Linked DNA regions of Homo sapiens. The protein of the gene in region 1 purifies or fractionates together with the protein of each later gene. This does not show direct contact. Each region holds a gene or a part of one and is shown in the gene's direction. Other genes may lie near its edges. The genes, in order: SLC25A20, OCIAD2, CRAT, LETM1, ALDH2, SCCPDH and SFXN1.

Region 1 (4,247 bases):
CCTTCTTATAGTCTGTACATACATAACAATGATAGGATTCTGTAAATATGTTATTCCTATGCCCAATCCTCCACGGCCCCCCAGGTCACTGTGAATTGGCTCCAGCATTCTCAGATAACATGACCTTCCTTCTGTTCCTCAGACATACCAGGTACATATGTCTGGATACTTTGGGGAAGTTATACCAAAAAAAAAAAAAACCATTGATACTCAATTGACATTATCTTACATTTATTATTTTTAGAAAAATAGAAATCTTTCTTATTGAAAACTTTTCCCAACTAGAATTAGGACTCTTTTTATTGACCTCTTATTTTGTAATCCTCAGATATTTTAGAGTTTTATTTATACAAAGCCTATTGCTTAATTCACATATTTGTTGCTTTTTTTTTTTTTTTTTTTTTTTTTTTTTGAGACAGAGTCTTACTCTGTCACCCAGGCTGGAGTGCAGTGGTGCAATCTCGGCTCACTACAACTTCCGCCTCCCAGGTTCAAGTCATTTTCCTGCCTCAGCCTCCTGAGTAGCTGGGATTACAGGCATCTGCCACCACGCCCAGCTAAGTTTTGTATTTTTAGTAGAGATGGGGGCTCTCACCATGTTGGCCAGGCTGGTCTCGAACTCCTGGCCTCAGGTGATCTGCCTGCCTTGGCCTCCCAAAGTGCTGGGATTACAGGCGTGAGCCACCGTGCCCGGCTTTTATTGCTATTTTGAATGGGATCCATTTCTTGTATTGATTGATTGATTGAGATAGAGTTGTGCTCTGTCTCCCAGGCTGGTGTGCAGTGGCACGATCTCGGCTCACTGCAAACTCCACCTCCTGGGTTCAAGCGATTCTCCTGCCTCAGCCTCCTGAGTAGCTGAGATTACAGGCATGTACCACCACGCCTGGCTAATTTTTGTATTTTTAGTAGAGACAGGGTTTCACCATGTTGGTCAGGCTGGTCTCAAACTCCTGACCTCATGATCTGCCCGCCTCAGCCTCCCAAAGTGCTGGGATTACAGGTGTGAGCCACCGTGCCCGGCCTTTTCTATTATTTTTTAACTGGTTAATCCTGATATGTAAGAAAGCTATTTGGTTTATGTATTTGTAAGTGTTTCTCTTTGGAACTGTTAAAGCTGAACTCCCTTTCCAGCTTTAATTATTGTTTGGTTGATGCTCTTGTGTGTTCTGACTCCTCTTGGTCCTGAACAAGCGGGATCCCTGTGTGGATCCTGCATGGAGCTGTCTTTCAGATCTTTCCTGGGATTACCCCTGCCTACCCCCAGGTTCTTGGCTCTCAGGGGCGGGGTAGGAGCCTCTCTTTGGCCCTCCTCTGGCTCTGCATAGGAGCCCTCTCTGAACAGGACCCCTGTCTGGGAACTTAGAGCTTTGAGTGAAATTTTCTGTTCACCTTTTCTTAACCAACTCTCATGACCAGGTAGGCTTGGAATGCAGTTGGTCTTCAGGGGATATTTGTTGAAGGAATAAATGAATGACTAAAGTATTTGTCGCTTCCTTTTTAGACCTTCCAAATAGCTTTATTGTGTTTGACAGATTTCCTCAACTTATTTTTTATTTTTAAATTTTGAGACAGTCTCACTCTGCTGCCCAGGCTGGAGTGCAGTGTGGTACGATATGTTTTCTAACTGCAACCTCTGCCTCCCAAGTTCAGGCGATTCTCCTGCCTCAGCCTCCTGAGCAGCTGACTACAGGCGCCCACCACCATGCCCAGCTAATTTTTGTATTTTTCGTAGAGACAGGGTTTCACCGTGTTGACCAGGCTGGTTTCAAACTCCTGACCTCAGGCGACCTGCCTGCCTCGGCCTCCCAAAGTGCTGGGATTATAGGCATGAGCCACTGCACCCGGCCTCCTCAACTTGTTTTTCAAATTTTCTGTTGGTTTTATTTCTAGTCAATGTGAATGTTTTCTGATATTTTCACCTAGCCTTATTTCATAGTACCTGCCCCAAGATCACACATTCCAGATACTTATCAATTTGACAGTGAAGTCTTTTATTGCTGTAACACATAATGGCCATACTTACTTTGTAGTCTCCTGTAACCTGCTGGGTCTGTGACTCTGATGTTTCTGACTTAATGATCCTCTCCTCCCTCCCAGATTCAGGCTTCTTCAGGAGAAAGCAAGTACACTGGTACCTTGGACTGTGCAAAGAAGCTGTACCAGGAGTTTGGGATCCGAGGCATCTACAAAGGGACTGTGCTTACCCTTATGCGAGGTAACCTTTCAGGCCTCCACTTGAGGTCACCTGGGGAGGTCACCTGAGGTGGGTCTGCTGCAGAAGGTCTTGCCTGGATTGCCAGATTAGCCTTGGCACCATGCATGTCACATCTCTGACAATACTGGCAGTAAGCATCTCCCCCTGGCCAGCATGGACGTAGATTAGGATGAGGGGACCTTCCATCTTTCCCAGGTGTCTGCAGGGGTAGAAGTCATGGCATCACAGTTGGAGGGGAGTGGCAAGTAGATAGAAATCATCTCTGGAGGGAGGAGTGGGAAGAAAGTGTGACTTGGGGACAGTGGTGATCTCCCTGGTTTTGAGAAGTATGTCCTGTTATAGTGGCAGTAGGAAAGGCAGAGACAGTCTCACTCTTGTCCTGAGCTGGCAGCTTAGAGGAAGGCCAGATACAACAACTGTGCTTATAACTGTGGGCATGTCACTTGCCCACATGGACTTTCACACTGAGAGAAAACCTTATTTATTTTTTTACTTATTTTTATTTTATTTTTTGAGATGGAGTTTCACTCCTGTTGCCCAGGCTGGAGTGCAATGGCACAGTCTTGGCTTACTGCAACCTCTGCCTCCCAGGTTCAAGCAATTCTCCTCCCTCAGCCTCCCAAGTAGCTGGGATTACAAGCACATGCCACCATGTCTGGCTATTTTTTTGTATTTTTAGTAGAGATGGGGTTTCACCATGTTGGCCGGGCTGGTCTCAAACTCCTGACCTCAGGTGATGCACCTGCCTCGGCCTCCCAAGGTGCCGGGATTACTGGTGTGAGCCACCGCACCCGGCCTTATTATTATTATTTTTTGAGACAGAGTCTTGCTCTGTCACCCAGGCTGGAATGCAGTGGTGCATTCTCAGCTCACTGCAACCTCCACTTCCTGGGTTCAAGTGACTCTCCTGCCTCAGCCTCCTGAGTAGCTGGGGTTACAGGTGTGTGCCACCATGCCTGGCTAATTTTTGTACTTTTAGCAGAGATAGGGTTTCACTATGTTGGCCAGGCTGGTCTCGAACTCCTGACCTCAGATGATCCACCTGCCTTGGTCTCCCAAAGTGCTAGGATTATAGGCGTGAGCCACTAAGCCCAGCTGAGGGAACTTTAATGAAATTATATCATGTGTGTTTGTACTCACTTACACCAGTGCTTGGCCCAGAGCAGCATCCCATAGCTGCAAAGTGATTGTTGCAAATAGGATGTGGCTGCTAAGGAACTTCTCAAGAATCCCTGAAGGGTCTAGTGCCAAGCTTGGCTTTTCTACATTCAAGAAATCTGTGGGGGCCGGGTATGGTGGCTCACACTTGTAATCTCAGCACTTTGGGAGGCTGAGTTGAGAGGATCACTTGAGCCCAGGAGTTTGAGACCAGCCTGGGTAAAATAGTGATACCCTGTCTCTATTAAAATAATAATAGCTGGGCGTGGTGGCTCACCCCTGTAATCCCAGCACTTTGGGAGGCCGAGGCGGGCGGATCACGAGGTCAGGAGTTCAAGACCAGCCTGACCAATATGGTGAAACCCCATCTCTACTAAAAATACAAAAATTAGCCGGGCGTGGTGGCGCATGCATCCCAGCTACTCAGGAGGCTGAGGCAGGAGAATTGCTTGAACCCAGGAGGCAGAGGTTGCAGTGAGCCGAGATTGCACCATTGCACTCCAGCCTGGGCGAGAGAGCGAGACTCCGTCTCAAAAAAAAAAAAAAAAAGTAAAGTAATAATAATAATAATACTATATTCTTTTTCTTTTTTTTTTGAGACAGAGTCTTGCTCTGTTGCCCAGCCAGGAGTGCATTAGTGTGATCTTGGCTTACTGCAACCTCCACCTTCTGGGTTCGAGTGATTCCTGTGCCTCAGCCTCCTGAATAGCTGGGATTACAGGCATGTGCCACCAGGCCGGGCTAATTTTTGTATTTTTTGTATTATTATTATTTTTTTTTGAGATGGAGTCTTGCTCTGTCACCAGGCTGGAGTGCAGTGACTCGATCTCAGCTTACTGCAACCTCCACCTCCTGGATTCAAGCGATTCTC
Region 2 (4,247 bases), on another chromosome or scaffold:
TCCTGTGCCTTTCTCTGTGCCGGAGTCCTGTGTCTCCCAAGGCCTCTGTATATGGTTAGACAGATGGTTCCCTGTACAAATAAGGATGTTGCAGGGAGGAGGTGGGGGGAGCTAAAATCCACCCTAAGCTGTGTCCACCACACCATTTCTTTTGGCAAGAGGCTGCATCTGCCTGAGGAGGGCACCCTGTCTCCTCCATACAAGAGACCGTAAGGACCAGCAGCTGCCTTGCATCTCACCACATAACCTCTCCCTGCCTCTTAGCGTTTTCCTGTTTTCCTCTCTGTTCTTCCTTCTTCATCTCCTCCCTGTCTCCACCTGACCAGAGAACCCAGAGACATTCCTTAGTCCACAGGTGGCAAGAAGGCACCTTATCTTGTTTAAGCCCATTTTATCAAACACTGCTGATTAACAGGATTTTGCTATTTTTTTTTTTAAATGAGACGAGGTCTTGCTATGTTGCCCAAGCTGTCCTCAAACTGTTGGGCTCAAGCAATCCTCGCCACTAGACCTCCTGAGTACCTGGGATTATAGGCACGTGCCACCATGCCTGGCTTCTGATTATCAGGACTTTATGGGGATCTTGGGGTTTTGTTTTGTTGGTTTTTGGTTCGTTTGTTTGTTTTTGAGACAGGGTCTCACCCTCATCCAGTGCAGTGATATAATGGCTCCCTGCAGTCTCAACCTCCTGGGCTCGAGTGACGCTCCCATCTCAGCTTCCCAAGTAGCTGGGTCTATAGACACATGCCACCACACCCAGCTAATTTTTTTTTTAATTTTTGCAGAGACAGTGTCTCACTATATTGCCTAGGCTGGTCTCGAACTCCTGAGCTCTTGTGATCCTCCCACCTCAGCCTCCCAAAGTGCTGGGATTACAGGCATGAGCCATCACACCCAGCCTTGATTACCAGGATCTTAAAAGGAACATTTGTACCAGTAAATATGAGGGAAGAAGTCCTAGTTCTTTTCTGGGTCTCAAAAACCACATGTCACATATCTAGGAGAATCCCACTTTGACCAATATCATTCTTGTCCATAAAGGTCATATATTAAATATGATTTTATTTTTATAATTTGAAGATAGCATTTTTCAGATCATTTTTGACACATAAAAATATTGGGGCTGGGACATCTATGGGGATTATGGGTTTTTTGTTTGTCTATTTGTTTGTTTTTTAGATGGAGTCTCACTCTGTCGCTCCGGCTGGAGTGCAGTGGTGTGATCTCGGCTCACTACAACCTCCACTTGCTGGGTTCAAGCAATTCTCCTGCCTCAGCCTCCCTAGTAGCTGGGATTGCAGGCCTGTGCTACCACATCCAGCAAATTTTTGTATTTTTAGTAGAGACAGGGTTTCACCATGTTGGCCAGGCTGGTCTCAAACTCCTAACCTCAAGTGATCTGCCCACCTCAAGTGATCTGCCCATCTCAGCCTCCCAAAGTGCTGAGATTGCAGGCAAGAGCCACCGCACCCAGCCAGGATTATGTTTTATAAGTATTAAAATACTCCAAATCTACTGCTTGTGGTGTGAATGTCTCCTTCAAAACTCAGGGTGAAATTTAACTGCCATTGTAACAGTATCAAGAGGTGGGGCCTTTAAGAGGTTAAGTTATGAGGGCTCCACCCTCGTGAATTGATTACTACCATTATCATGGGAGTGAGTTCCTTATAAAAAGGATGTGTTCAGCCTCTCCTCTTGCTCTCTGTTTCATGCACTTCCTTGCCATGGGATAACCCTCACTACATGCCAGCTCTGTGCTCTTGGACTTCTCAGCCTCCAGAACTGTGAGCCAAGTGAACTTCTGTTCTTTATAAATTATCCAGCGTATGGTATTCTGTTATAGCAGCAGAAAACAGACTAAGACATCTACCATTTTTTGCATCTATGCTAATACATTTTTTTCAGAGTTTGATATCAGTTTTCTATAACTTCTCTAACAAATTACCACAGAGTGACTTAAAACAACACAAATGTATTATCTTACAGTCCTTGGAAATCAGAATGCTGAAATGGGTCTCACTGGGCTAAAATCAAGGCGTCGCCCCAGCTGTGTTCTTCTGGAGGCTCTTGGGCTTCCTTTTCCTTTCTCGTTTCTAGAACCATGCATATTTCTTAACCGGTGGCCCCTTCCTATGACTGTAAAGTCAGCAACATTGAGCCAAGTTCTTCTGTTGCTGCCATCTCTCTGCCTGTCACCAGTTTCCTCTTCCACACTGAAGGATGACATTGGGTACACCTTGATCATCTCTCTCTTTTAAAGTCATCTGATTAGCAACATTAGTTCCATTTTCTACCTTAATCCCCCTTTTGGGACATAATATATTCACCTTTTCCAGGAATTCGGATGTGGGTATCTCTAAAAGGCCATTATTCTAACTACCATGAGTTGTACTGTTTGCATTGTAAAATAATGATATACACTGTGAATCTCCAAATGGAAACTTTCTATGTTAAGTTACTTAAAAAGAAAAGAGGGTGCACATGTACCCTAGAACTTAAAGTATAATTTTAAAAAAAAGAGGATGATGACTAATCTCTTTGAACACTGTTGTTAGCCCTACCTTTGCTTGATGTCTTTGAATCAGTCTTGAACTGTCTTTTTCATATTATTTTTCTACACATTACAGCTAATATTTGTAATTTGCCTAAAATGACTATCTGGGAGTTCAATTCAACTGAGAATTGAATCATAACTCCTTTAAGATCTTTTTTTTTGAGATGGAGTCTCGCTCTGTCACCCAGGCTGGAGTGCATCGGTGCCATCTCAGCTCACTGCAACCTCCGCCTCCTGGGTTCAAGCGATCCTCCTGCCTCAGCCTCCTGAGTATCTGGGATTACAGGCACCCACCATCATGCCTGGCTAAGTTTTGTATTTTTTTAGTGGAGACGGGGTTTCACCATGTTGGCCAAGCTGGTTTCGAACTCCTGACCTCAGGTGATCTGCCCGCCTCGGCCTCCAAAGTGCTGGATTACAGGCGTAAGTGACTGCGCCCAGCCAAGATCATCTTTTTAAAGTCAGAATATGTATACATTTAAGAAATTTTATGTCTTAAATTTTGGAGGTTTCTTTATACTTTAAGAATAACTTATAATTTATAACTTATAATTTAATTTATGAAATGAAATAATAATGTTTTTCTTTATTACTCCTTAGGTTATTTGGCAGCTAATTCTAGATTTGGATCATTGCCCAAAGTTGCACGTAAGTCATAGAAATAAAAAAGCAAGCCAAGTGTGGTGGCTCACATCTGTAATCCCAGCACTTTGGGAGGCTGAGGTGGGTAGATTGCTTGAGTCCAGGAGTTCGAGACCAGCCTGGGCAGCATGGTGAAACCTTGTATCTATTTTTTTAAAAAGTAATAAATAAATAAAAACTTTGAAAAAAAGACATTACTAGCAACTGGAGATACGAATGTCCAGCCTAACTAAACTGCCTGTATTGACTTTTGGAAAAATCAGCCCCTATTTTCTGCCACTCTGCATTTCTTAGTTCACTCAACACTTTCTGATATACAGCTTAGCAGTTGGGACTTCTTCTTAGACCATCCTTAAAGCATGGACTAAGAGGGACTGGCAGGATATATAATGAGATTATCAATAGCAGAGCCTCTGCATGATAGATCATTTATGGATTTTTATTTTCTTCTTTTGCCCTGGCCAGTCTTTTCAAAATGTTTTCTACGATGGATATAAAAAATGAGTAATTTTTAAGAATCAGGGGATTTCTAATAATAGAGTAACCACAAACTTGGGGTTTCATCTTCCTTCACCTGGTATCAATAGATCTTTTATGTACAAAAAGGACACATTTTAGTTGATAGTCTGAAACCACATTCATTCCTAGCAGGAGGAACAGATTCGAGATCTCTTCCATAGGAGGGTCCCTCTCCTTTGTGACCTCTCTCCTATAGGCAAGATGGACTGAAGCTCTCCACTACTCCAAGGCCATAAGGAAGATTAGGGGCATTTCTACCCAGTGATTTGGAAGCTACCTATAGCCACAACCCAGCCACCTTCCCCTGCCCCCGTGGCCTCAACCGTTTGCTTGACAGGTGGGCCCTCTCTGGCCATCTGTCTCCAGGACAGCACTGTGGCTTGCTCTGTCCTGGCCCTTCCACCACCAGTGCAAAGTTGAGATGGGGAAGTCTCCAGTTCCCAATCCTGTTCTTTTTAAATAGAGACTTCATTCTCAGAGTCTTCATTCATTGATTTAGCGTGGTCCTTTTAATTTTAAAATTACCAGCGTT
Region 3 (3,997 bases), on another chromosome or scaffold:
GAGGACCAAGGAGTTGGTAGTTGCAATACTCGCTCTTTTTTTTTCTTGTTTTTTTTTAGAAAGAGTCTCACTCTGTTGCCCAGGCTGGAGTGCAGTGGTGTGATCTCGACTCACTGCAACCTCCACCTCCCGGGTTCAAGCAATCCTCCTGCCTCAGCCTCCCAAGTAGCTGGGACTACAGGTGCCTGCCACCATGCCCGGCTAATTTTTGTATTTTTAGTAGAAACGGGATTTCACCATGTTGGCCAGGCTGGTCTCAAACTCCTGACCTCAAGGGATCCACCTGCCTCGGCCTCCCAAAGTGCTGGGATTACAGGCGTGAGCCACCGCTCCCAGCCCCAATATTTCCTCTTAAAGAGCTCAGAATCTAGTGCTGGGTGGGGGTGGGCTACTGAGGTGGGCCAGAAGAGAAGGGACAGTGCTTCAGCTCCCTCTGACCCTCACCACTCTAGGAGCACCAGAAGGTGGAGCTGCTGCGGAAGGCCGTGCAGGCCCACCGAGGCTACACCGACCGGGTAAGTGAGCCCGCTTGTGCCTACTCACTTGTCCCTTAGTGTCAGCCATCTGTCTGTCCCTCTGACTGTCCGTCCCTGCAGCCAATGGCTGCCAACCCTTTGCTAGGACCACATCTCCCCCAACCTGGGAGCACCTGGAGCCAGGCTGAATAGCCCCCAACTTTTTCTTTTTTTTTTTTTTTGAGATGGAGTCTTGCTCTGTCGCCCAGGCTGGAGTGCAGTGGTGTGATTTAGGCTCACTGCAACCTCCGCCTCCCAGGTTCAAGCAATTCTCCTGCCTCAGCCTCCCAAGTAGCTGGGATTACAGGCACCCACCACCACACCTGGCTAATTTTTCCATTTTTAGTAGAAACAGGGTTTCACCATGTTGACAGGCTGGTCTCAAACTCCTGACCTCAGGTGATCCACCCACCTCAGGCTCCCAAAGTGCTGGGATTATAGGCGTGAGCCACCGTGCCCGGCCAAATATCCCCATTTTAAAGTTGGAGAAACCCAGCCTGGGCCCAGTAACTGCCTTGGTTCCAGGTTCCAGGGCTGGCCTGGGCCCTAGATGTTGGGTCACACTCTCTCCCTGATGCTAGGTATCTCTCCCTGACGCTAGGTATACATGGTCCAGCAGACAGCCAGTTTCCTGCCCTCCAGCAGCTTGGGCTGCAGTCAGGGAGGTGGCTGTCTGGATGCGTGTCCTGGCTCTGTCTCTGAGCACCTGTGTGTCCAGGCTCTGACCGTGCTACATGCACACGTCCATTTAGAGCTCACCGCCACCCTGCGAGGGGAGTGTAGGACTCACCCCTCTTTACAGATGAAGACACTACAGTTCCAGAACCTAAGCAACCTGCCAAGGCCCTGCAGCCAGGATGGGGCTAGGTCACCCAGCTCCAGGGCCCTGCCCTACAACCCTGCACTTTCCTGCCTCCCTGGGCAAATCCCCGCCCCTCCCTGAGCCTTGGTTTCCCCATCTGTGAAACGAAGGCTCTCTCTGGCCAGAATACTCTGGTCTTGTGGTTTTGAGTGGCCAGTGCCTGCGAAGGGTGGCGCTGCCACAGGCTGAAGAGGGCAGGGATACCCCGGGGGTCCACAGCCCCTGCTCCTGACAGCTCTCCCACCCCAACAGGCCATCCGCGGGGAGGCCTTTGATCGACACCTGCTGGGCCTGAAGCTGCAGGCCATCGAGGACCTGGTGAGCATGCCCGACATCTTCATGGACACCTCCTACGCCATCGCCATGCACTTCCACCTCTCCACCAGCCAGGTGGGCCACTGCCCCAGGTGCCCCGGGGGCTGGAGGCAGAGAACCCACTGGTAGTTTGATGTGGCCTACACAGGCCCCACTGACCCATTGCCAACACAGCTGAGTTCCAGAGGAGGAGCTGGGGGCAGGGGCCTCTCTGCAGCCCAGGCAGGCTGAGAAGGGGTCAGTGCTCCTCATGGGAGAATCAGCTTCGCTGACTCACTGGTCAGGTATAAAGGAACATTTGATTCGTGCCAGCCTGTAGTGGTTGCTGGGATATAGCAGGGGACAGACCATGATCCCTGCCCACAAGGGGCCTGCAGTCTTGGCGGAAGCACAGGCAGCCTGGGAAGTGCTGGGGGCGTCAAGGTAGGGGAGCTGAGAGCTTTCATCCTGCCGTCCCCAGGTCCCTGCCAAGACAGACTGTGTCATGTTCTTCGGGCCCGTGGTCCCCGACGGCTACGGTGTCTGCTATAACCCCATGGAGGCCCACATCAACTTCTCCCTGTCGGCCTACAACAGCTGCGCGGAGACCAACGCCGCCCGCCTGGCGCATTACCTGGAGAAGGCGCTCCTGGACATGCGTGCCCTGCTGCAGAGCCACCCCCGGGCCAAGCTCTGAGCCCCTAGGACTCAGGCCTGCCAATGCCACAGCCAAGCCCACCCTGGGATGGGCCACCCACCAGGGCTCAGCTCCTTGGTTCCCTCTTCCTTGGTTCCCTCTTCCCTGGTCCCCCCAAATCTACTGAGCCACGGACCGCATCCTCCAGGGGGCCTGCAGGCCCCAGCCAAGTGCCTTCCGTGGGTCATCCCAGCACCTGCCAGGGCCCGACCTGGGGCTGAGTGCAGAGGCTGAGCAGGACGTTAGGCCCGGGCCCCTGGCACGTCCTCCACCGGTGCCTCCTCTGGGGAAGGGAACCAGCCCTCCAGAGCAGGAGACTGGCAAGAGCTCTTTGTCTCACCAGCTCAGCCCCGGCCACTCCCTGCCAACTCCATGACCAGGCCACCATCTGTACCCTGCTTCCCAAACTCCCAGGACCTGGAGACAGGATTGTCTGGGGCCGAGGGGCCAGGGTGTGAGGTTTCACCTCCGTTGCGGCTGTGCTCCTGTGGATAACATTGCTAGCGAGCCGCCTCTGGTTCCACTCAGCTTGGTTCCTGCCCCCGCCCTGCTGTATGATATTAATGTGGAAGGTCATCAATAAAGGGGAATTGTGTTGGTGAAGAGGTGTTTCAGCTGAGAGGCAGGCAGGGTGGGGGCAGGCACCTGGCCTTGCCCTCTTCAGCTTTCCCTGGGCCTCGGAGCTGGTGTCCAAGCAGCTGGTGGGCCTGAGGGCTTTGGCCCAGGAGCCAAGGTCCAGCTGTGACCTTGGGGCACTGGGCCCAGAACCATACCAGAGCCAGGGCTGCGTCCTTCACCAGCAGCTTCCCACCTACCTCTGGCTTGGGCCTTCCCAAGTCCCATGGGTTGTGGGTAGGGGCAACTCTCCCAGGGGACTGTGGGGCCCAGCAGGCCCAGGTCTGGTGGGCTGATGAATGTTGCTAATACCCAGGGGCCCAGGGTGTCATTCTACTTCCCCCAACTGAGCCCAGCAAAAGTAGGAGTACAGCAGCAGGCTCAGCTTGCCCCAGGCCCAGCCGCTGCCAGGACAGACACCTTCGGGGGTGGGCAGGTGCGATCAGAGCAGAACCACATACCTGCCCATAGCCCCGTGTCCATGGCTGAGGCAGGGCATCCTGGCAAAACCAAGCGTGCAGTTTGTGGAGAGGGGAGAGTCTCCCATTAGGACACTGGCCTGTGAGGAAGGCCTGTGTGAAACCACAAGGGCGGATGCCGGGGTGGGCTGGGGGAGGTTGGCTGGCCTGTGAGTGAAGGGCTCTGTGACCTGACTAAGCTGGGACAGTCATCCGAGAGTGGGGCCTTTGGTTTTCTCCGTTTGTCAGATGAGGAAGCAGGCTTAGCGAGGTTAAGGTCACCGGGACGCTAAATGGCAGAGCAGGATTCACAGAGGCCACACTTGTCTCCTCTAGGCCGGGGCTCCAAGAAGCCCCTCCCTAGAGCCAGGTCCCCAGCCCCAGGCCACATCCACCTAGGTGTCCCGCAGCAGGGGGTGGAGAAAGGGATGCTATGGGTGGAAACCGGCCCAGCCTCAGGACCACAAGGAAGCGGGTAAAGAGGGAGGCTGGGCTGAGCCTGAGCTCTAATCAGGCGCAGGGACCTGCCAGGCCTGACCATTGGTGGTGTACTCAG
Region 4 (4,247 bases), on another chromosome or scaffold:
AGCTGGGGCATCTATAGCCCTCAGTGAGAGGAGATGGTGCAAGGGGTTGAGGATGAGGCCACTGGGCCCCTAGGAGGCTTGGTGGTTAGGAAAAGAGTGAGTCCGGCCGGGCTCCGCACTGTGCCTGGGTGCACAGCAGCTGACGCTGCCGTGAACTTAGCACCCTGGCCCACAGTGTGGCAGGTAGAGATGCCAGTCGGCAGGTTTCAGGGCCCTTTGCCAGCTTGCCCAGACAGTGAAGGGGTGTGGAAGCCAATGTGGCCCCTCAAGGTAGAGCCTCCTCCACAGGCCCAACCTGCTGTCACCTCCTGTGGGGTGATCTGGGCTTGGAGCATCTTCAGACTCCCCATGCGAGCCTGTGAGGTGCAGCCTCCAGGCGCCTGTGCTGCCTACCTGGGGCGCCTCCTGGTACCTTCCATCTTGAACTCGCGGGCTGAAGTGCAGTGGCGCCATCTCGGCTCAGTGCAGTCTCAGCCTCCCAGGTTCAAGCAACTCTTCTGCCTCAGCCTCCCAATATCTGGGAGTACAGGCGTGCACCACCAGACCCAGCAAATTTTTGTATTTTTAGTAGACAGGGGGTTTCACCATGTTAGCCAGGCTGGTCTCAAACCCCTGACCTCAAGTGATCTTCCCGCCTCAGCCTCCCAAAGTGCTAGGATTACAGGTGTGAGCCACCACACCCAGCCATAAAAAAAAAATTTGGCCAGGCGCAGTGGCTCACGCCTGTAATCCCAGCATTTTGGGAGGCCGAGGTGGGCGGATCACGGGGTCAGGAGATCGAGACCATCCTGGCTAACATGGTGAAACCCCATTTCTACTAAAAATACAAAAAATTAGCCAGACATGGTGGCATGCACCTGTAGTCCCAGCTACTCAGGAGGCTGAAACAGGAGAATGGTGTGAACCTGGGAGGCAGAGCTTGCAGTGGGTGACAGAGTGAGACTCTGTCTCAAAAAAAAAAAAAAAAAATTTCACTTTTTAGCAAATCAAATAGAACTATTCTGTAAAAAGAATCATGATCACATGGGATTTGTCCAAAAAATGCAAATTGGCTTGAATTTTTTTTCTTTTGAGGTGGGATCTCACTCTGTTGCCCAGTCTGCAGTGCAGACATGACCTTGGCTCACTGAAGACTTGACCTCCCAGGCTCAAGTGATTCTCCTGCCTCAGCCTCCCGAGTAGCTGGGATTATAGGTGCCCACCACCACACCCAGCTAATTGTTGTATTTTTAGTAGAGATGGGGTTTCACCATGTTGGCCAGGCTGGTCTCGAACTCCTGACCTCAAGTGATCCTCCCACCTCGACCTCCCAAAGTGCTGGGTTTACAGGCTTGAGCCACTGTGCCTGGCCAAAATTTTTAAAATGTAATTTCCATATTAACAGACTAAATTAGAAAAGCTGGGAATGTTTATCTTGGTAGCTGCAGAAAGAGCCTGTGGCAGAACCCAGTATCTGTTCCTGATATGCAGATGTCCTGCACATGCAGGCAGCTTTCTCAGCCCAATCAAAAGCATCTGCAGAAACACCTCCAGCTGCCGTCACCCTCAGTGGTGAGACGCTGATGAGGTTGTCTGTCCTCACTCTGAGCTCAGCATCAGCTTGGGGGTTTCAGTCAGGGCAGTTGAATACAGAAAACAAAACCATATAGATCAGAAAGGAAAAAGGAAAACTCTTTATTCACAAATGGTGTGAACAATCAATTGTGCTTCACTATGGTAATGAGTAGTCAGAGAAGGTTTGAACAGTATGGCACCCCCCAAAATGAACTACTTAGGGATAAATTTGGAAAAAGATATGCAAGTGCTGTCCACGGAGTACTGTAAAATGTTGCTGAGGGAAAGAAAAACCAAACAGAGAGGCTGGGCGCGGGGCCCACACCTGTGATATCAGCACTGTGGGAAGCCGAGGTGGGAGGATCGTCTGAGTCCAGGAGTTTGAGACCAGCCTGGGCAACATAGTGAGACGCCGTCTTTACAAAAAATAAAAAGTTGGACAGATATGTCAGTGTGTGCCTGTAGTCCCAGCTCCTGGGGAGGCTGAGGCAGGAGATTGCTTGAGCTTGGGAGATCAAGCCTGCAGCAAGCCATGATTGCACCACTGCCCTCCAGCCTGGGCAACAGAGTGAGACCCTGTCTCAAAAAACAAGACAAGAAACACACGACCACAGGGGCAAATCTCAAAATAAGTGAGTGAGAGAAGTCAGACAAAAAGAGTGCTTGCTGGATGATCCGTCTATCTAAGATGCTAGAAAGTGCACCCGAGTCTGCAGTGGCAGGACCTGAGGTTGCCTGGGGGTCGGTGGCGGGACCCAGTGGGGGCACAAAGATGCATTTGGAGGTGACTCTTTGACTGTAGTGAAGTTTCACAGTACACGTGTCAATTCATAGATGACGCGCTTTAAACAAATGGGGTTTGGCATATGAGGGCAGACAGTGACTGCGTGCAGCAGCCAGCGCAGCAGTGAACCTGAACCCCGCGGGTCTCTTGTTACCAATGACTGTCCAGTGAGACTCTTGCCCTGGGCTGCCCGTATAATATGAACAGAGCAGCTGGTCACTTGGGAACAGGCCAGTTCTTTCCCTTGGCTCAGGCTTTGTTGTTTGCCCATTTTTATCCCAGGAGGAAGAGATCACGAAGGAGGAAATCGACATCCTCAGCGATGCCTGCTCTAAGCTGCAGGAGCAGAAGAAGTCACTCACCAAGGAGAAGGAGGAGCTGGAGCTGCTGAAGGAGGATGTGCAGGACTACAGCGAGGTGGGTGGGATTTGCTCCCTGGACTCTGAGACTGCAAGAAGAGTAAAATCGCTGTACTGGCCCCAAAAGTATACATAATACTTCCGTCAGATACTTGATAAGCTGGCCAAAGAGTATTTGGAGAGGAAAGCACGTTATAAATAAACCTTATTCAGTAACCTTTCCACAGCCATTCCGGCTGGACCAATCCTCTGTAATGTGGCTGTGTGCCGTTCTGGCCACAGATGTGTGTGCACCTTTTTTTTTTTTTTTTTGTAAGAAGGTCTTGCTCTGTTGCCCAGGCCAGAGTGCAGTGGCACAATTTCAGCTCATTGCAACCTCCACCTCCTGGGTTCAAGCAATTCTTGTGCCTCAGCCTCCCGAGTGGATGAGACTGTAAACATGTGCCACCATGCCCAGCTCAATTTTTTGTATTTTTAGTAGAGACGGGGTTTCACCATGTTGACCAGGCTCATCTCGAACTCCTGGCCCCAGGTGACCGACCTGCCTCGCCCTCTCAAAGTGCTGGGATTACAGGCGTGGCCACCGTGCCTGGCCACATCTTTTAGTTTCTAAACATGGGAAGGTGTCTCATGAAGAGTTTGGTCACTTGACGAGATCTTATTCATGATTACGTGAAAGTGGCTTTTTTCTTTTCTTCCATGGTGGTTTGTTTCCCTTTTTTTGTAAATATTACTTCCTAATAACGATTTTTTTTCTTTCTTTCTTTCTTTTTTTCTTTTTTTGAGACGAAGTCTAGCTCTGTCGCCCAGGCTGGAGTGCAGTGGCGTGATCTCGACTCACTGCAACTTCCGCCTCCTGGGTTCAAATGATTCTTCTGCCTCAGCCTCCTGAGTAGCTGGGACTACAGGCATGTGCCACCATGCCTGGCTAATTTTTTGTATTTTTAGTAGAGACAGGGTTTCACCATGTTGACCAGGCTGGTCTCGAACTCCTGACCTCATGATCCACCCGCCTCAGCCTCCCAAAGTGCTGGGATTACAAACATGAGCCACTGTGCCCGGCCCCTAATACGATTTTTTAAAAACTGTTTTCATAGCTCTGTTGGGAATGATAACTGATTTTTCAATTGGCAAAAATAATTGGCCATTTCTAGATTTATGACAGCCCTCATGCCATGTGGGTTCTCCACTGGATGTGAGGTGCTTATCACCAGCTCAGCCTGTTCCTTCCCTCCCCTCCCCTCGCCTTCCCCATTCTTCCTCATGGTGTTTACTCGTGGGAAAAAAACAACTTGGAATTTAAAAAGACACTTAAGGCTGGGCACTGGTGGCTCAGGCCTGTAATCCCAGCACTTTGGGAGGTCAAGGCAGGAGGATCACTTGAGCTCAGGAGTTTGAGACCGGCCTGGGCAACATGGTGAAACACCATTTCTGCAAAAAATACAAAAATTAGCCAGGCATGATGTTGTGTGCCTGTACTCCCAGCTACTCCAGAGACTGAGGCAGGAGGATTGCTTGGGAGTGGGAGGCTGGGAGTTGGAGGCTGCAGT
Region 5 (3,797 bases), on another chromosome or scaffold:
AAAAAATTGGCTGGGCTTGGTAGCATGTGCCCAGCTACTTGGGAGGCTGAGACAGGAGAATCGCTTGAACCTGGGAGGCAGAGGTTGCGGTTAGCCAAGATTGTGCCACTGCACTCCATGGGTGACACAGAGAGACTCTGTCTCAAAAAAAAAAAAAAAAAAGTAAATGCTATGTTATGTGAATTTCACCTCAACTGAAAAAAACAGGGTCCCAGAGCTGGTCAGGGGAACTTGGACAAACCACACAACTTCTGAGCTTCCATTTCCTCACAATCTCTGCAGTCACTTCCAACTCTCATTTGGCTTATTCTGTGAAGGATAAAACAGAGCTGACATTTGTTCATTTGTATTGATTTTATTTACATTTTTCAAAAGGAAATAGATGCAGATGGTATAGAAAGTTTCAGTGAAATGTAAATCTGATGCCCAATCCTGTGGCCCCAAGAAGTATTAACTGTGCACCCACTACATGCCAGGAACTGTACTTGGAGCCTTCTCAAGAGCTTCTTAACAATATTTTCATTTTTTATATTTTTTAATGACAGGGTCTAACTCCGTCGTCCAGGCTGGAGTGCAGTGGTGCGATCATAGCTCACTGCAGCCTCTACCTCCTAGGCTCAGGTGATTCTTCTGCCTCAGCCTCCCAAATAGCTGGTACTACAAGCATGTGCCACCACAGTCAGCTAATTATTTTTGGAGAGTCAGGGTTTCACTATGTAGCTCAGGCTGGTCTTCAGCTCCTGGCTTGAAGTGATCCTCCTGCCTTGGCACATAGAAGGGGTTACAATATACATATATTAGAGTGAGAGCATAGATGTGATGCCTGGCGATATGGCTTACTTATGAGACAGCACCTGACCTACAGCCATCTATGACTCCTACTGTATCTTCCATGCCAGGAGTAAGGGTGAGGATACCTGGCAATAATAAAAATAATAACCTGAGAGTCTAATGGCTTATTTTTTGTAGAGATGGGGTCTCACTGTGTTGTTTAGGCTGGTCTTGAACTTCTGGGCTCAAGTGATCCTCCCACCTCAGCCTCCTGAGTAGCTGGGATTATAGGCGTGCACTACCATGCATATATATATATATTTTTTTTTTTTTTTGAGAGAGAGAGAGAGAGATGGAGTCTTGCTATGTTGCTCAGGCTGGTCTCGAACTCCTGGCCTCAAGTCATCCTGCTGGCTTGGCCTCTCAAGTGCTAGGATTACAGGCATGAGACACTGGGCACAGCCCTAATAGCTTATTTTTAAAGCTATATCAAAATGTCATGCACCTGAACATTTGAAGTAACCTCTCTGATAGTACGGATATTTATCCCCTCAAAATCTCATGTTAAAATGTAATCTTCAGTGTTGGAGGTGGGGCAAGGTGTGAGGTGTTAGGATCATGGGGGTGGATCCCTCATGAATGGCTTGGTGTCCTCCCCCATGGTAATGAGTTCACTCAAGAGCTGGTTGTTTAAAAGGTGACGTGGACCTAATCCCTGTTGGACTGAACAAAAGGGGACGAACACAGCAATAAAGATAAAGACCAAAGAGTATATTTGGAAGAAGGGGTCAGGGGGCTCCTTGCTTCTAGTGAAAAAGGGCCCTGAGCTTTAGTGCCCTTTGTATTTATTGGGTAAAGGAGATAGGGAGAAGGGGGGGTGGTTGTCGGTCAGCAGCTTGATTCACAGCAGGCTCACAAGATTGCATTCTTTGAACAGTAGGCTCTAGATGTCTCAGTAGATAACCTCAAAGAGCATGGCGCCAGGGAGTGATTGCCCTCAGCGAACCTTCTGGCGGCTGAAGCAGAAGTGAGTTTGCCCACATTCTGCATTTATGATAAACAGTTTGCTGTTTGATCATATAGCCTCAGTGGAATGCTGAGTTGGTCACAACCCATGGGCATTCAGCTCTCTACATTTCCCCCTTTCTGTTTATGAATTAATTGAAAGAATGTAAGGCCAGGCTGGGCAGCTCTCATTTTCTGATTGGCAGTCCATCCAATTTTACAGACTATGAACAGAAGACAGAGACAAAACAACATTATTCCAAGGACTACATATAAGATGTTAATGTGGTGCTTTAGACAGGTCCAAGGGTTGAGGCTCTCCAGGCCTTGCTGGAATTTGGTCTAGTCTTCTAAAGAAGGCTGAAACTCTTGAGTTTGTTTATTTAAATCAAGAATTTTGTTTTGTAATTCACCGATATCAAAGGTGATGTTGGATGTGCAAGCTCCCTGCAAATGGGCTTTCACAAGGTCCCATGGATACTCACTTTGGTTATATTCTAAGTTGGTTACACAAATATGAGTGTGATTAAAATGATGGTGCAATTGCTGTTGCAATTGCAAGCTTTGTACTTGTTCTCCTAACTGTAGAGCCGTGGATTTCAACAATGCCACTTCAGTTTGTAACTCAGTGTTAATTTTATTCTGAAGTGGCCATGCTTGGTTGGCTATACGCATCCAGTTTTCCATGTACTGAGTTGTTTGAATAGAACTATGCAAAGCTACAGAGGACATCACAACGGAAGTTATTAATGTGACCAAGGAAACAATAGCAAAAATTATCATGCCTAAGGCTCTATGGGCACAATGAGTAAGTTGAGTTAGAAGATGTTTCATGAAGTGCAAAGCAGGTGTGGTAGCCCAAGGCTGGGACAGATTAACAGGAATCCATAGCCCAGGGATGCGACCCAAAATTATCAAAGTAGAGACATTATGTGTTTGCAATGTGCTATGATTAATGCAGTGACATAACTGGCAAGATTTACAGGTCAATTGGATATTGTTTACCTGGAGCTGGTCCTTCTTAGTTGCCAAAAAAGACATAAGGATTAAAAAGACAAACCATAAATTGAGTGGTGATATTCTTTACAAATGTAACATTAAGACTGTGTTGCTTACTATTGCTATCACTGGATAGTATCCCGCCATTCATAAATGGGAGTGCTGCCTTCCATAACATCTCTTGGATTGGTCCTTTCCTCCCTAGATAATGCCACTGAGGAAGAGGCGGGCTAAAGCCTGCTCCATGTCAAGCAATCTGGGTGGCAGACTGGGATTAGATCCCGGTGTGGTATAAAGAAGAAGCATTAAAATCTTGCCACCAATGCCAGCGAAGTTTGTGCCATGATTTCTGATTTTCATGTTTTCCATATAGTTGACCTTTAGGTCCCCAATCCACAATGTCTCCAGTTAACATAGATTGTTTTCTAGCCAGTGGGTCAAGACATTGGGTCCATGTCTTGGGGGGTAGTAACTATCGAAGGGAATCCATTCCATATAGTCAGCACGATTAGGGTGATTGGGCCGGGAATGGTTGGTTAGCACACCTGTTACATTAATAGAACCAAGACTTAATAGGCACATGACTTTTCCATAATGACTCAACCATTCTTGAGCTTGAATTATAAGACAGCTACAGTTAAGCGATGTCTTTGTAGTGATACACAAGGGGAGTCCTTCTAGTGGGGTGGTATAATTAATGACATTGTTCTGAGAGTCTAACTGTTCTATTTTAAGGGGAGTTAGGGGTCCTGGAGCCCATACTTGCTGATCACGATAAATCTCAGGAGGAGTGTCACTCCAAAGCATAGGTTGTACTACTAGGGGATTGGGAACATATGCCCAAAATGTTTTTGCCTCTGCACAGGGAAAACATACCACACAGGACATTATGGCTAACATGGCCAAGAACATGGAATCAGGGTGTTTTGCCTGGCTCTGATGCTCCAGTAGTTTCCCAGCTTCCTGAGTGGTATTCTTGAGTTGCCCCCAGGTTATGGGGGTTGATGTCGTCATGACTCCGG
Region 6 (4,247 bases), on another chromosome or scaffold:
CACCTGTGAGGCTTATTTACAATGCAAGTTACTGGAGTCTACCTCAGAAAGCCTGATTCTGGGGGTCTGGAGTGGGAGTGAGTGACCAGCATGCAACCCAGGTGATTCTAAAGCAGGTGGACTCATGGCCAACTTGAGAAATTTGGGGGTGAAATAACTTAAGAACAAGGCCGAGAAAGCTCCAAATGAGTTTTAAAATGGATGTGTGCAAACCCTAAGGATCAACCAGGATAATCCACTGGGTGCAGAAAGCATATGGAGCTTCAACTTCTGTTTTAATCTCAACTTTAGTTCTATTTAAATATGTTTAAAATGTGTGTTTTATTCATTTGGTAGGCAATTTAAGTGATTTATAAGTAAATTCATATAGTTAGTAGGTGATGGATTCCAGGTGTGAACTTGGGTCTTACTGCCTTGAAATCCTTTGTTCCATGATACCATACTGCCTCAGAAGTAGAGTTCTTCATTAATTTCATGTGGTTTGTTAATGGGAGGGTAGGAACTCGAATTTCACACACTTCTCCCAGTCCTGTAATTCCAGTGTTATCCGCCATTCTTAGTAAGAGGTGTGAGGTCTTGGAGTTAGGTAAGAGGGCAGCCCATCTGACCTATTTGTAAAGGTCGATTGTGTCTTTTAAGTGTCCCTTGTTCCTCAAAGGCTGGAAGAAAGAAACGATTTCCTTGTTCCATCTTTTGCTGCCAGGAATGAATAAAGCAGAGGAGTTTGTGCTTCTAATCTACTTCTTCACAAAGGAAAAGATTTGTCATGCTTCTTTGGAAATGGGACTGAATTCTGATGTATTAGCTTTTACATATGAAAATTTGTATTTTAATTCCTTGAGTTTGAATAACAGATAATATGGGAAATCTAATATCATACAGGCTCAGAATATCTGCTCTGTTCAGTATCAAACTTATCCTTTGCAAACTCTCTTCTTCCTGTTGGTTTGTTTTTAATTTTGACCAATAATACCACTGGTTCTTGGCCCCCATGTCCAGCCCAGCTAGTCAGGAAATCCAGTCATTTCCACCTTTTTAGTATTGTATGTCTCATCTTTAGTATATCGTCTGTGCTATAAGTCTTATACCACTATCCTGTTTAAAATTCTTCTGGAAAGCCAAGTAAACTAGAAAGGATAAAGTTGAAACTTGTTAGCATGGCACATGTGGTCCTTCCTGATGTGGCCGTAGCCTGCCTTTTCAGACCCATCTCTTTCTACTTCCTACTCAAGTGAATTTGATTCCTGCTTCAAGCAACAGGAACAGCTCCTTTTTCTTAACCTCTGCATTTACTTTTTCCTGTATCTGGATTTTTCTTTTTCCTGGAAAATTTTTATTTGTTCTTTAGGGTTCAACTCAAGGGAATCACTTGTATGAAACTTTTCCTTTTGTCTTCAGGTAGAGGTAAGCATACATTGCTCTGTAATTCCATCATGCCTTTATTTATTCACACTGTGAGAGATGGTATTGTGCAGGTATCTTCTCAGTTTATCTTTTTGTTTCTGAGACGGAGTCTCACTCTGTCGCCCAGGCTGGAGTGCAGTGGCACGATCTTGGCTCACTGTAATCTCCACCTTCCAGGTTCAAACCATTCTCCTGCCTCAGCCTCCCGAGTAGCTGGGATTACAGGTGTGTGCCACCACGCCCGGCTAATTTTTGTATTTTTAGTCGAGATGGGGTTTCACCATGTTGGCCAGGCTGGTCTTGAACTCCTGACCTCAAGTGATCTACCTGCCTCGGCCTCCCAAAGTTCTGGGATTACAGGTGTGAGCCACTGTGCCTGGCCACTTTCTGAATTTATCTTTAGGCTATTTTATTAACAGTTGATTTCTTGATAACTAGGACTGTTTACTTCCAGGATTAGATGGCATTTTATTCATTTAAACTTGTCAAGCAAGAATAACCTCTTTGTTCTTTTTGTTTCCCTAGTATCGGTTTTATGGAGAACCTGTAATAAAAGCATGTATTGAAAATGGAGCCAGTTGTATCGACATCAGTGGAGAACCTCAGGTATAAAAAATAAAAAGGAAAAACGTAGAATTAACACATAAATTTCGGTTTAATGAAGTGGAAATATTTAGTGTAATTTTGCAGACATATTTAGAAGCCGACAACTCCTTTCTAGCATTCAGATATGGTATTCGTGTGGTATTCCATTGATAGCTCAAAGGAGAGCGCTGATGGTAAGGTCTTAGCTTCAGTTTTCTGAATTTTTTCCCTCCCTACAACATCATTTCTTATAGGTCTGTGCTTATTATAGCTACTTCATGCTTTAAACTGAATCAATTAAAATAGCGGACTGTGCATAATTCTTAGAATCTCAATTCTGTCATGTTTTCATTTTGAATTCCCTTTTAAAAATCAGGTACCTTTAGGCCGGGCACGGTGGCTCACACCTGCACTCCCAGCACTTTGGGAGGCCAAGGCGGGCAGATCATGAGGTCAGGAGATCGAGACCATCCTGGCCAACACGGTGAAACCCCATGTCTACTAAAAATACAAAAAGTGAGCCGGGCATGGTGGCGGGCACCTGTCATCCCAGCTTCTTGGGAGGCTGAGGTGGGAGAATGGGGTGAACCTAGGAGGTGGAGCTTGCAGTGAGCCGAGATCACTCCACTGCACTCCAGCCTGCGCCACAGAGCGAGAGCGAGACTCTGTCTCAAAAAAAAAAAGAAAATTCAGTTACCTTTATAACATTACAGAAAAATAAAGGTAAAATTCACTAGTGTAAAATCAACCTAAACATTTTAAATGTTCACATTTATTGAATGCTTACCATATGCCCAACATTGTGCTAAGTGTTTTATGTAACTTTTTAAAAATATACCTATAGGGTAGTTATCTTCCTCCATTTTTTGTAGATGAGGAAATTAAAGCTTAGGAAGCTTAAGTAACTCACTCAGTAATGCACCTAGTAATGCACCTAGTAATGCACCTAGTAAGTAGAAGAACTAGGTCTTCAATTGAGGTTTGCCTGACCACAGGAAGTTATGTGTTAACAGGCATTAAGCTCTACTACAGCCTTTAAAATGGTAACCTCATGTGTCTCTGTAGTAACTACTGATTATCATCATCAGCATGCCAATATGATATTAATATGCATTTGCAGTTTATCAATTGGTAAAATACTGGAAAATACTGAGACAGTGTAAATTACAAAAATTGATTCAAAAAGGAGGAAACAAATTAAAAAAAAAAAAAAGCCCAGGCGAGGTGGCTCACGCCTGTTACCCCAGCACTTTGGGAGGCTAGGTGGGAGGATGACTTGAGCTGGTGAGTTAACAAATTAGCCAGGAGTTGGTAGCACACACCTGTGGTCCCACCTACTCAGGAGAATGAGACAGGAATATCACTTGAGCCTGGGAGGTCAAGGCTGCAATGAGCTATGATCATGCCACTGCACTCCAGCCTGGGCAACATAGTGAGACCCTGTCTCCAAAAAACAAAAACAAAAAACAATTCCCATGTTATTTTAAATAACCCAGAACATAGAAAATGGTGAAAAGCTTTTAAGTCATCTAGAAACTATCATAAAAGTAGTATCGAACCCCCCCCTTTTTTTTTGATACAGGGTCTCTCTCTCTCACCCAGGCTGGAGTGCAGTGCTACGATCTTGGCTCACTGTAACCTCTGCCACCTGGGTTCAAGCGATTCTCCTGCCTCAACCTCCTGAGTAGCTGGGGGTACAGGTGCACACCACCACACCTGACTAATTTTTGTATTTTTAGTAGTGACAGGGTTTCACCGTGTTGGCCAGCTTGGTCTTGAACTCCTGGCCTCAAGTGATCCACCTGCATCGGCCTCCCAGAATGCTGGGATTACAGGCATGAGCCACCACGCCCAGCCATAATATCAAAACCTAATAAGGAGTTGGGCACGTTGGCTCATACCTGTAATCTCAGCACTCTGGGAAGCCAAAGTGGGTGGATCACTTGAGGCCAGGAGTTTGAGGCCAGCCTGGCCAACATGGCGAAACCCCATCTCTACTAAAAATACAAAAATCAGCCAAGCATGGTGGTGCACGTCTGCAATCCCAGCTACTCAGAAGGCTGAGGCATGAGAATCACTTGAACCCAGGAGTTGGAGGTTGCAGTAAGCCAAGATTGCGCCACTGCACTCCAGCCTGGGCAACAGGGTCGGATCCTGTCTCAAAACAACAACAACAAACCTATTAAAGAACCAGAGGGCTGGGTGCGGTGGCTCACACCTGTAATCCCAGTGCTTTGGGAGGCCGAGGCAGGCGGATC
Region 7 (3,500 bases), on another chromosome or scaffold:
TGCCCGTCTCGGCCTCCCAAAGTGCTGGGATTACAGGCGTAAGCCATTGTGCTCGGTCCACATTTTCATATTAAGATAAATTCCAAATTCATTAAAAACCTAAATGACAAAAAGAAAACAACTATTCTGAGAATGCTAGAAATATCGGTGAACATTTGTATAATCTTTCTAGATAGAAACTTTATTCCTACCTGATTACATAAAAATAATAATTTTCAGGACAGCAGATAACACAACCAAAAAAATAAAAATTGGGGTTAATCGCAGTGTATAAAATACGCGTACAAATTACATAAATAACAATGATGCTGCTGTGGATGGTAATTTTTTAAAAAAAGACTAGTCAAGTAGAGAAAAAAGATAGAAGACATAGCCAAAGTTTTAATGTTGTACATAGCTTTTGTTCCAGCATATTTACTCATTTCTTTCAGAATAATCTTGGATGTGGGGATAGATTTATGTATGAGGGTTTATTTACTTCCTCATCCTTTACAAATGGAGTAAAATTAGAAGCAATTAATATGCCCAACACTAGGAGATTGGTATATATTACAGTATCTTATAATCATGTAGGAGAATACTATACAGTACTTAAAAAGTTGGTGTATTCATTTCTTTTTTTTTTGAGACAGAGTCTCACTCTGTTGCCCAGGCTGGAGTGCAGTAGCACAATCTCAGCTTACTGCAACCTCTGCCCCCCAGGTTCAAGTGATTCTCCTGCCTCAGCCTCCTGAGCAGCTGGGATTACAGTTGCCTGACACTGCACTGGCTAATTTCTGTATTTTTAGTAGAGACGGGTTTTCACCATGTTGGCCAGTCTGGTCTTGAACTCCTGACCTCGTGATCCACCCACCTTGGCCTCCCAAAGTGCTGGGATTACAGGCGTGAGCCACCATGCCCAGCCTATTAATTTCTTAAGGCTGCCATAACAAATTGCCACCAACTTGAGCCTCACAGTTATGGAGGCTCAAGGTCTGATATCAAGGTGTCAACAGGGCCATGCTCCCTCTAAGAATCCTTCCTTGGGGCTTCCAAGGTTCTAGAGGCTCTAGGAATGTTTTGATGCACCTTGGCTTATGGGTACATTGCTGTCATCTCTGCCTCCTTCATTACTTGGCCTTCTTCTGTGTCTGATTGCACATGGCCTTCCTATAAGGACACCATTCATTGGATTTAGGGACCACTCTAATCCAGTATGCCGTTTGGCATTTGAACTAATTGCATCTGCAAAGATCCCATTTCCAAATAGGGTCACATTCTGAGGTTGCAGGTGAGACATGAATTTTGGGGGAGACACTGTTCAACCCAGTATAGATTATATAGAAGAATATCTGAAGACAGAGAGAAATGTTTACAGTATATTACTGAGTAAAGAAGGTGGTTATAAAGCAGCAGGTCTGGTGTGATGCCTTTAAGTAAACACATCACATTTAGCTTCTAGAGGAGAGACTGAAAATACATGCATGAAAACATTACCAGTGGAGATGAGTAGGTAAAGACTTGAGTGATTTTAATTGCTCTAATGGATTCCTGTTTTTTCTCAATTTTTGACAATGAATACGTGCTTCTTTGATAAAGAGAAGAAGTAAAGAATGAGGCACCTAATTTTTTTTTCATCAAGAGTCTTCTGAGGCTGGGCATGGTGGCCCACGCCTGTAATCCAGCCCTTTGGAGGCCATGGCAGGCAGATCGCCTAAGCCCAAGAGTTCAGAACCAGCCTGGGCAACATGGTGAAATCCTGTGTCTACAAAAAATGCAAAAAAATTAACCAGGCATGGTGGCGCATGCCTATAGTCCTAGCTACTCAGGAAACTGAGGTGGGAGGATCACTTGAGCTCAGCAGTTCAAGGCTGCGGTGAGCTGAGATCATGCCATTGCACTCCAGCCTGGGTGACAGAGTGAGACCCTGTCTTTAAAAAAAAAAAAAAAAAAATTCTTCCTGAACTAGCTTTTCATTCTATAGGTATAAAAATGAATTAATATCCTTGATTACCATAACTTTTGTCTAATTGTTTAAAGTATTTTAGAGTTTACAAATTCAAAATACATTATAAAATATGTCACTTGAAGAATATTTCAAAATTGAATGCTTTCCTATTCCCTATATATAATTTCTTTTCTGGCTTTTCCAAACTACAGATAATTTGAGATGAATAGATTTGATTTTTTTTTTTTTTTTTTTTTTTTTTGAGAGGGTCTTTCTCTGCCCAGGCTGGAGTACAGTGGTATGATGACTGCTCACTGCAGCCTCAACCTCCCGGGCTCAAGTGATCCTCTTGCCTCAGCCTCCCAGGTAGCTGGGACCACAGGCATATGCCACAATGCCTGACTAGTTTTTATTTATTTTTATTTTTTTATAGAGACAGAGTCTCACCATGTTGCTAAGGCTGGTTTTGAACTCCTGGGCTCAAGCAATCCTCCTGCCTCAGCCTCCCAAAGTGCTGAGATTACAGGCATAAGCCACCGCGCCCAGCCTGAAATGTTCATTTTAAGTGTTTATTGTCCTGTATGTTTTGAAATTTTTACTGACTATATGTAACAAATTTGTCACTCCATCTAGGCACAAGTGTTTTAGGTGAGCATAAATTTTTTTTTTTGAGACAGAGTCTCGCTTTGTCACCAGGCTGGAGTGCAATGGTGCGATCTTGGCTCACTGTAACCTCTGCCTCCCAGATTCAAGCAATTCTCTTGCCTTAGCCTCCTGAGTAGCTGGGATTACAGGCGGGTGCCACCGCACCCGGCTAATTTTTGTATCTTTAGTAGAGACGGGTTTCACCATCTTGGCCAGGATGATCTCTATCTCTTGACCTTGTGATCCACCTGCCTCAGCCTCCCAAAGTGCTGGGATTACAGACGTAAGCCACCACACCCAGCCAGAGCATAAACTTTTAAAACCTTGTAGCCACTTGTCTCTAGGACACTGGGGAGATATTTGAAATGAGCAATTGCCATATTATTTGTTGTTTTCTTAGGCAAGGAATTGTTCCTCCTGGTCTTACAGAAAATGAATTGTGGAGAGCAAAGTACATCTATGATTCAGCTTTTCATCCTGACACTGGTGAGAAGATGATTTTGATAGGAAGAATGTCAGCCCAGGTTCCCATGAACATGACCATCACAGGTTGTATGATGACGTTTTACAGGTATGTTATGAATATGTAGCAACAGTGTGTTTACCATTACAGAAGCTCAAAGTATATTTTTGTATGTAAATAATTTTGTTGAAATAAGTATTATTTCATAAGTATATGAAGTGACAAACAAGGTAATTAGCTTGATTGAATCATTCCGTAATGTACTTATGAATCAAAACATCATGTTGAACTCCTTTAGTATATACAATAAAAAATAAAATTGAAGACAATAAAAAACAAAAAATGGGGTATTATTGATGTAAAAGAAAAGAAGTCATTTCACTTTTAGTTCCATTATGTTTGAATGTTGCTACTCTGGGACTCTTTTTTTTTTTAACCCTTCCCCTCTGCTAAATAGCATCTTCT

What was found.
Region 2: the proteins of SLC25A20 (region 1) and OCIAD2 fractionate together in Homo sapiens (co-fractionation; one large-scale study listed by BioGRID). This does not show direct contact.
Region 3: the proteins of SLC25A20 (region 1) and CRAT fractionate together in Homo sapiens (co-fractionation; one large-scale study listed by BioGRID). This does not show direct contact.
Region 4: the proteins of SLC25A20 (region 1) and LETM1 fractionate together in Homo sapiens (co-fractionation; one large-scale study listed by BioGRID). This does not show direct contact.
Region 5: the proteins of SLC25A20 (region 1) and ALDH2 fractionate together in Homo sapiens (co-fractionation; one large-scale study listed by BioGRID). This does not show direct contact.
Region 6: the proteins of SLC25A20 (region 1) and SCCPDH fractionate together in Homo sapiens (co-fractionation; one large-scale study listed by BioGRID). This does not show direct contact.
Region 7: the proteins of SLC25A20 (region 1) and SFXN1 fractionate together in Homo sapiens (co-fractionation; one large-scale study listed by BioGRID). This does not show direct contact.

The regions. Positions count from the first base shown.
Region 1 is NC_000003.12:48,860,513-48,864,759, reverse strand, and holds part of SLC25A20 (mitochondrial carnitine/acylcarnitine carrier protein), read left to right. Parts: intron 1-2,100; coding exon 2,101-2,218; intron 2,219-4,247. UniProt on the Homo sapiens protein: Mediates the electroneutral exchange of acylcarnitines (O-acyl-(R)-carnitine or L-acylcarnitine) of different acyl chain lengths (ranging from O-acetyl-(R)-carnitine to long-chain O-acyl-(R)-carnitines) with free carnitine ((R)-carnitine or L-carnitine) across the mitochondrial inner membrane, via a ping-pong mechanism.
Region 2 is NC_000004.12:48,892,961-48,897,207, reverse strand, and holds part of OCIAD2 (OCIA domain-containing protein 2), read left to right. Parts: intron 1-3,154; coding exon 3,155-3,202; intron 3,203-4,247. UniProt on the Homo sapiens protein: Has an essential role in the assembly of mitochondrial respiratory chain complex III. Is also required for STAT3 activation and plays a role in cell migration.
Region 3 is NC_000009.12:129,093,768-129,097,764, reverse strand, and holds the end of CRAT (carnitine O-acetyltransferase), read left to right. Parts: intron 1-452; coding exon 453-515; intron 516-1,629; coding exon 1,630-1,767; intron 1,768-2,152; coding exon 2,153-2,368; 3' UTR 2,369-2,971; downstream 2,972-3,997. UniProt on the Homo sapiens protein: Catalyzes the reversible transfer of acyl groups from carnitine to coenzyme A (CoA) and regulates the acyl-CoA/CoA ratio. Also plays a crucial role in the transport of fatty acids for beta-oxidation.
Region 4 is NC_000004.12:1,817,846-1,822,092, reverse strand, and holds part of LETM1 (mitochondrial proton/calcium exchanger protein precursor), read left to right. Parts: intron 1-2,620; coding exon 2,621-2,755; intron 2,756-4,247. UniProt on the Homo sapiens protein: Plays an important role in maintenance of mitochondrial morphology and in mediating either calcium or potassium/proton antiport. Mediates proton-dependent calcium efflux from mitochondrion.
Region 5 is NC_000012.12:111,814,691-111,818,487, forward strand, and holds the end of ALDH2 (aldehyde dehydrogenase, mitochondrial isoform 1 precursor), read left to right. Parts: 3' UTR 1-2,842; downstream 2,843-3,797. UniProt on the Homo sapiens protein: Required for clearance of cellular formaldehyde, a cytotoxic and carcinogenic metabolite that induces DNA damage.
Region 6 is NC_000001.11:246,734,046-246,738,292, forward strand, and holds part of SCCPDH (saccharopine dehydrogenase-like oxidoreductase), read left to right. Parts: intron 1-1,929; coding exon 1,930-2,010; intron 2,011-4,247.
Region 7 is NC_000005.10:175,506,060-175,509,559, forward strand, and holds part of SFXN1 (sideroflexin-1), read left to right. Parts: intron 1-2,972; coding exon 2,973-3,143; intron 3,144-3,500. UniProt on the Homo sapiens protein: Amino acid transporter importing serine, an essential substrate of the mitochondrial branch of the one-carbon pathway, into mitochondria.